Linked DNA regions of Homo sapiens. The protein of the gene in region 1 interacts with the protein of each later gene in a pairwise test. Each region holds a gene or a part of one and is shown in the gene's direction. Other genes may lie near its edges.

Evidence for each region.
Region 2: the proteins of MEIS1 (region 1) and TRMT10B interact in a two-hybrid assay, tested with the Homo sapiens proteins (one large-scale study listed by BioGRID and IntAct).

What each region holds. Positions count from the first base shown.
Region 1 is NC_000002.12:66,563,843-66,567,660, forward strand, and holds part of MEIS1 (homeobox protein Meis1), read left to right. Parts: intron 1-3,610; coding exon 3,611-3,669; intron 3,670-3,818. UniProt on the Homo sapiens protein: Acts as a transcriptional regulator of PAX6. Acts as a transcriptional activator of PF4 in complex with PBX1 or PBX2. Required for hematopoiesis, megakaryocyte lineage development and vascular patterning.
Region 2 is NC_000009.12:37,752,423-37,756,807, forward strand, and holds the start of TRMT10B (tRNA methyltransferase 10 homolog B), read left to right. Parts: upstream 1-1,382; 5' UTR 1,383-1,430; intron 1,431-4,385. UniProt on the Homo sapiens protein: S-adenosyl-L-methionine-dependent guanine N(1)-methyltransferase that catalyzes the formation of N(1)-methylguanine at position 9 (m1G9) in tRNAs. Probably not able to catalyze formation of N(1)-methyladenine at position 9 (m1A9) in tRNAs.

The sequences.
Region 1 (3,818 bases):
AGAGAGAGGATGTATAAAATAGTCTGGGATAATGATAAAATACACTAAAGAGAATCAAATGTGGAGATTGTTTAAGGTCGAAAAGGTGATGTTGTTTTAAAAATAAAATATTTTGCTATTTACTTTGTTGTTTTCACATAGATGTCCATCATGACCCCAAATAATTAGTTGTTCATATAAGTGTAGTAATTGTAATTCAGTAACGTTCTGAGAGATTACTACATCCTATATGTACTAATGATATTTCATTATATTGAATTTTTTAAATTAAATGTTTCACAAGTAAGAAGTTGCAGGTAGACCTACTAATGTGGTCAAACAGCTCAGAAAAGGTGATTAGTTTTTCTCAGGTTTTCAGTGTTTTTGTTTATGTTTTATTTTTTAATTAAAGGTTTCCCCCTTTGATATCTACACATTCTAGGGGTAGCTGACATCTGTGTTCTTAATAACAACAAACAGTTCTTGCCACCAAAAAGAAGCAAATAACATCTAGTACCTGTGGGCAGTTGGCTAAGAGGCTGTGGTATTTTTTGTGTGTATTTGCTTTCTACCTGGGGATCAGAGCAGGCCTGGAATAAATGTCGTTGGTGTTGTCCACTGCAAGGCTTCAGGAGGACATAGACAAAGATCAGCCTACTGAGCAGAGAGTGGTCCAGGTATTGAATGGACTCAATATCCTAGAAGGACTCACATTCTAGCAGGCACTTTTTAAGAATCACTAATGTTTAACCTAAGGATTAGAGGGGAGAAGGCTATAAAGCATAATGGCTATGTTTAACTATTTGAAGGGCTATCCTGTGGAAGTAAAATTAGAATTGCTTACAGTACCCCAAGGAGTTGTGCTGATAAAACTATTAGGTTGGGTGCAAAAGTAATTGTTTTTTTTTTTTTTAATTATACTTTAAGTTCTAGGGTACATGTGCACAACGTGCAGGTTTGTTACATATGTATACATGTGCCATGTTGGTGTGCTGCCCCCATTAACTCGTCATTTACATTAGGTATATCTCCTAATGCTATCCCTTCCCCCTCCCCCTGTAATTGTTGTTTTTGCCACTGAAAGTAATGGCAAGACCGCAATTACTTTTGCACCAACATAAATATTTTTGATCTAGTAAGGCAGAACCTTCTAACAGCCTTGTTTATAGATGGGGTGGCCTCTTAAGTAAGGTGGTGAGTGCTGTATTAGTTCAGCAGAGGTTACCTATGTACTTTTGGGGGACAGATATCATATAGGGGATTCATGTCAGTGACCAAACGAAGTGACCATTACAGCCCTTTTGAAACCTGAGGTGTAATTTTTAAAAATGAACTCACGACTTTAATAGTCATAGACTCAAACCTGAGTTGATTATTATGAATTAGTTTATGGGAGTCTCAATATGTGAATATGATGGAGACAAGTTTTGGAATACAGATAAATCAAGTCACTGTATTCACTCTCTCTCTCTCTCTTTGAATAGCCTTATCTTTGCCTATACACACAAACAGTGCAGCCATCAAAATTTTCAATTTACAAAATGTTCACAGTCATGCTTCTTCCTTGACTAAACACTGGGGTTGCTGCCAGTGGTAATTGGCTTGAAACCAGCTAATTTTTATATATCTATTTAGTCTGGATATTCTAGATGAGTGGCACTATAGTTGCGGTGCTCTAGTCACTGTGCCAGAGCACCAGGGAGGAGGGTGCTTGCTACCACTGACAGCTGTGTGTCATTTAGCAAATTATTAACATCTCTTTGGTAACATGTGACCTCAAAGAAGTCACCTAATTTCTCTGAGCCCAGGCTTCTCATCTGTTAAAAATGTCTCTTCCTATTTTTAGGTAAGTAGTATAAGTCACATCCATAAAAGATTATGTTTTTAAAAAGTCTGGAAAAAGAAAGTTAATAGACAGAATTCCTTCCCTCTAAGAGTCTGCAGATAATGAACAGTACCATAGATAAAGAGATGTTTTTGCTCTCTTACCTACATTAGTTACTATGAAAATTACTTTTGGTATATGCAGAATATTAATATTAAATAATTTTCTAATTGGTCATGCAGTGAAGGCAGCTAATGAAAAAACAGATTTTTTTTCATTTTAATTGGTTATTTCACATGGTGTTTGTGCTACACCTGTGCTTATAATGAGAATGGAGAATTAATCTAACCTTCTGCTCACATGATTCCAGTTTTCATGGTTTATACAAGATAATGATAACCTGATTTGCAACACAATTTGTTGTAGACCTGTGTTTTAAATATTTTTATTAGCAGTTCAGGGACTTCATATACAAGAACTGATATAATATGTATTGCCAACAAGAATTAGCACAAACAGTATACCTTTTAGTTAGATTCTAGTTTCATTATTTGTTTCAATTACTTCTCAGATAATGAAAGAACACAAGGATACAGGATATTGAGAATCTTAAAATGTTATGAAGTATGCATTTTTGTTTTGAAAACCTGTCCCTGTCTGTTTAATGGTTTGGTTTTTAGGAACTATTTTCCTTCCTGAAGTGGGCAGATTTACAAACTAGAATTCATACTGGACTATGGATCCTTTAATCATTAATAGAGCCTTATTAAACTTTTCATTGTATTTTTTATGTCCTGCTCAGATTTGATCTGAGTTGGGAACTAAAAGGAATTTACTATTTCAGAATCTAATATGTCCTCTTCATTTTCTGGATTTGATACGTAATTTTTAATATTATGCAGAACAAACGGATCTTAAGAGAATCTCATGCGTATGACTCTGGAGAGCGTATATTAATACTTTTTTACATGTCAGTGACTTGTCACTTTTGGAGAGGCTACAAAAATAATTGTACAAAACTATCTTATTAAGGCACTTAAAGTAACTTAAGTGCCTTAATAAGATGTTTATAAATTTTCAGTACTAGCTGGAGAAAGCAAAACTATAAGTTCAATTACTGTATATCTGTGACCTTGCCTTGACCTCAGACTTTACATAAAGAGCAAAAAAAAAAAAAACAACAACAACAAAAAAAGCCACCCCAAGAAATCTCTACAAGGAATGCATTTCTCTGAAGTCCTAAGCAGTGTGAGTTAGTGGTGATAAACTCCAGACATTCTCTCATTTGATGGTGTGCTGCCATCCCAGTTCATTATCTTAATAGTGGGCATTAAAATAGAATTAGGTTTGCAAGAGGTAGGGGTGGTTTTGATAAAAATTGTACAAAAGAAGTCAGAGAACATAAGATTGAAATGTCACTAATTAGGAGAGGTAACAGATGCCCTTATGAGCATCTAACTCTTTACACCAATTTTCTCTCTTTGCAAATGAAAGGAGTGGTGGCTAGTATTGTTTCCTGAAAACTCTGCTAATTCCCCCATGAAAAGATGAAATGGAAGTGTCCAACTGTGGTAAAACAGGCAAACATAAATCAACTCAGAAACCCCAAGCCTGTGTACTCAAAGGTCACTGGGGGTTACAGGTTTTCCAGCACGTGAGGCTGCACATAGAGCAATGGAGAGAACTGAAGGAGTCCCATTTTGCCAAGATCTAGTTTTACTCCAACTGCGATTCATCTTTTCCTCTTCCTCAACCCCCCCTTTTATTTTTAAGGAATAACGATTTGTTTCACTTTCTTGGTTACAGGTTTATTAATGCCCGGAGAAGAATAGTGCAGCCCATGATAGACCAGTCCAACCGAGCAGGCAAGTCCCCCATAGTGACTGTATTCAAGTCACGCAAGCGAAAACCATCCTCAAGCCATTCACCGGGAGGTCCGCTACCTGGTAAATAAACTGGGAGTGAGTATAGGAACGCCTGGCAATTAAAATTAAACCAGTTTCGTTTCATAACA
Region 2 (4,385 bases), on another chromosome or scaffold:
AGCTAAGGGATTGTAAATACACCAATGAGCACTCTGTATCTAGCTCAAGGTTTGTAAATGCACCAATCAGCACTCTGTGTCCAGCTCAGGGTTTGTGGATGCACCAATCGGCACTCTGTGTCTAGCTAATCTGGTGGGGACTTGGAGAATCTTTATGTATAGCTAAGGGATTGTGAATGCACCAATCGGCACTCTGTATCTAGCTCAAGGTTTGTAAATGCACCAATCAGCACTCTGTGTCTAGCTCAGGGTTTGTAAATATACCAATCAACACTCTGTGTCTAGCTAATCTAGTGGGGACTTGGAGAACTTTTGTGTCTAGCTCAGGGATTGTTAACGCACCAATCAGCACCCTGTCAAAACGGACCAATCAACTCTCTGTAAAACAGACCAATCGGCTCTCTGTAAAGTGGACCAATCAGCAGGATGTGGGTGGGGCCAGATAGGAGAATAAAAACAGGCTGCCCGAGCAAGCAGCGGCAACCCGTTGGGGTTGCCTTTCTGGACTGTGGGTGCTTTGTTCTTTGTAATAAATCTTGTTGCTTGCTAACCCTTTGGGTCCCTACTGTCTTTGTGAGCTATAACACTCGCCGTGAAGATCTGTATTTGCAGCTCTTTCTTGAGGCCCGTGTGACCACGAACCCACCGAGAGCGAAGGAACAACTCCAGGTGTGCCCTCTTAAGAGATTTAACACTCATTGCGAAGATCTGCAGCTTCACTCCTGAAGCTAGCGAGACCATGAACCCGCCAGAAGGAAGAAACTCCAGACACGCAGTCTTTAAGAATTGTAACACCGCGATGGTCCGCGGTTTCATTCTTGAAGTCAGTGAGACCAAGAATCCACCATTTCCGGACACAATATGATATCAGGTTGGAATTTGATATTTTAGTTCTACAAAGATTCTGTTGTGTCAGTCCCCGTTGGGCCTAAACTCCGCAAGGGATGGGATATAATATCAGTGCATGTCCAACCGCCCCGCTCCACTCCCGCTTCCTGTAATGGCCATAACTAGTTTTTAAGGTTTCCTTCGGCAGAGAGGGAGGTCCATTCAGTCGGGTGCGGGCCTTAGAATTTTTTTGCTTCACACACCCCAGTTTCGCAATGTCCAGCCCTTGACAACCAACAGAGCACCTGTAGGAGCCCTGTGAAGTTGGTAAAGGGTTGGGGTTGTAATAGCTGTCCAGCAGACGGGGAGACAGGGGTTCAGAGAAGGTGGGCAACCACCACAGCAGGACGCAGCTCCCTACCGCCAGGGCTGGGAGTAGAAGCCGCAGCCTCCGCTCCGGCTCGGCCCCACGAGCACCCTGCAGGTGAAAAACTACAATTTCCAGAATGCCATTCGGAGCGGAGTTACGAAGCGGAAGCGAGGCCGGGGGCGGGGGGGATCCGATGCGCGCCGCTGCCGCTGCGTGGGGGTGAGGGGATCAGGTACGCTGTCCGCTGGTTAAGGGGGCTGGCTGGGGGCTGCGGGGTCTGTCCTGGGACGTCCGCCTCCCTCGCGGGTGGGGCGGACGTTGAGAAAGCAGCGTTTAGCAGTCATGTGGCCTGTGGTACTCCACCTTCCTGATACTTTCCCTTCCTGCTTCCACTCGCACGCTCAGCCTGTGGGCCGGGAGAGACCCGCAGGCGGGGTGCTCTCAGGCTGAATTCGATGTGCCATCACTTAGCGGCAGTGTAGGTACCCATCAGGTGGGAGTTAGGCTAGCAAAGGTCTGAGGCCTCTGCCAACCTAGGGTGGGGGTGCGGAGTGGAGGATTTATGAACTCAGCAAGTATTTATTAAGCATCTATAAGCAAACAACACTTGCCTACATTGAAGGGATGGAGGAGGTTCCGACAACAAGTAAAATAGGTTATGTTGGATAGTAATATGAATGAGGAGAGGAAGGTAGTCTGTGAGTGTCTTAGGGAAGAGCATTGAGGGTAAAGAGAACGGCGAATGTAAAGGCCTTGAAGGGTATGTTTGAGGAACAGCAAATAGACCCCGGAGTGCAGAGGAAACGAGAAAGGTAGACCTTAGTGATCTGCATAGGTCATTGTATGGATTTGGGCTATTTACTGTCAGTGAAATGGAGAGTACTGCAGGGTTCTAAGCAGAAGAGTGGTGATCATCAAATACTTAGGATGCTCACAGGGCTCGGGTACTGAGGGTGTACAGGTGAATTCTTCCAATTCTTCCCTGGGTTTATAATCTAGTGGGGAAACAGGTAGACAGCTGTCATGCAAGGCAGGGTCAGATAATTGGAGCCCCATGAAAGCAGAACGAATGTCATCCCCAAGTCCCCAGGATGTACTATTATGTCAGGTGCTTAGTAGCTTTGTTGAACGAAAGTAATGAATATTCAGCATCGGACCCATAATTGGAGGCTCAGAAAAGATGTTTAATGAAGAAATGAAAAATAAATGAAATCTCACTTCTTGATACTGTTACAATGGCAATTAAGTTTCAACCTGAATGTGAGAAGGGGACAAACATTCAAACCAGAGCAGCACTCAAATTCATAAGATAGGAAATACAAAGGTGCTGCCAGGATTGGGGAAGGGAGAGTTATATAAAGGTCACAGGGTCGGGTGTGGTGGCTCACGCCTGTAATCCTAGCACTTTGGGAGGCCCAGACAGGTGGGTCGCGAGGTCAGGAGATCGAGACCATCCTGGCTAAAATGGTGAAACTCCGTCTCTACTAAAAATACAAAAAAATCTAGCCGGACATGGTGGCGGGTGCCTGTAGTCCCAGCTACTCAGGAAGCTGAGGCAGGAGAATGCGTGAACCTGGGAGGCAAAGCTTGCAGTGAGTCGAGATCGCGCCACTGCACTCCAGCCTGGGCGACAGAGTAAGACTCCGTCTTTTTTTTTTTTTTTTTTTTTAAAGTTAGTTTCACTTTAGGAAGACAAACAAGCTCTGGAGCTGGACAGTGGTGATGGTGGCACACAATGTGGATGCCCTTAGGTGTGTTTTTAACTGCACATTTACAAATGGTTAAAATGGTAGTTCCTATGTCCAAAAAAAAATGCTAAATTTGGGCATAGATAATGTCCCACACAGATTGAGCAGATCTCTGCTTCTGTGATGTCCAACTTCACCTTTGCTTTCTGAGGATCCCTAGGTGGCAATCACCTAATCAGTATTTATTGAGCTTCCATTCTGTGCCAGGCCTTATGCCAGACAACAGAGATACAAAGATACAAAAGAGGTGGGCCCCGCCTTCAGGAGTGTTAGCTTGTTCTATTACTCTTCTGATGGTGGTTGGAGTTGTTTTTATTTGATTTGCAAGGTTATTGCATCCCAAATTCCTGGTTTAAGAAACATTCTCAGGGACTGTAGAGATTTGGAGAAACATGAGGTAAAAGGAGGGGAAAAGAAAGGAAGGGAGTGGGAGTGGTGGCGGTAAACTTCAGTTCAATTAAACAAAAAATAAACACTGCTGTTTTCAAGGTTCTATACTGTGAACTCTTAAGTGTTTAGGTAAATGTAGGTATAAGCCCTCCTACAAAGGAATTCAGTTTGATAGGAGAGAAGATACCAGCACAGACTTTCCAATTTTTGAAAACAACAGTGGAAGTCTGTAGCTCCTAGGATCTCCTATCCTAGATCTCTTTTCCCCTCCTTAGCCAGACTACCTCCAGAGAAATCTCTAGATCCATTGCCTCCCAGTCATTCCCCAACAGGCCCCGGCATACAGTAGGAGCTTGGTGGAATGTTTATTAACTAATGAATGGTCAACACAGGTAAAAATACAAAATGCTATGAAGTTTAAAGGAGGAAGAGATCACATGGCTATTAACTAGCATTTATTTAACAAATGGGTGTTGGTTTTCTCACCCTAATACAATGAAGTTGTCAGTTAAAGATTAGTTTATCTTAATGTTTTCATTTGTTATTTTCTGAATGCCTATATGCAGGAAAATGCAGATGACTCTGATGGTATAAAAGTCTGTTCATTCATCTAAAAGAACTGTCATAATGGGGGTCTAGATATCTTTTGTTTAAAAAAAAAAAAATGGCTGGGTGCGGTGGCTCACTCCTGTAATCCCAGCACTTTGGGAGCCTGAGATGGGTGGATCACTTGGGTCAGGAGTTTGAGACCAGCCTGGCCAACTTGGTGAAACCTGATCTCTACTTAAAATGAAAAAATTAGCGTGGTGTGGTGGTGCGTGCCCGTAGACCCAGCTACTCGGGAGGCTGAGGCATGAGAATCGCTTGAACCTGGGTGGCAGAGGTTGCAATGAGTCATGAGATTGCAATGAGATCATGCCACTGCGCTCCAGCCTGGGTGACAGAGCAAGACTCTCATCTCAAAAAGATATATATATATATATACACACACACACATATATATATACACATATATACATATGTGTATACATACATGTGTATGTGTATAT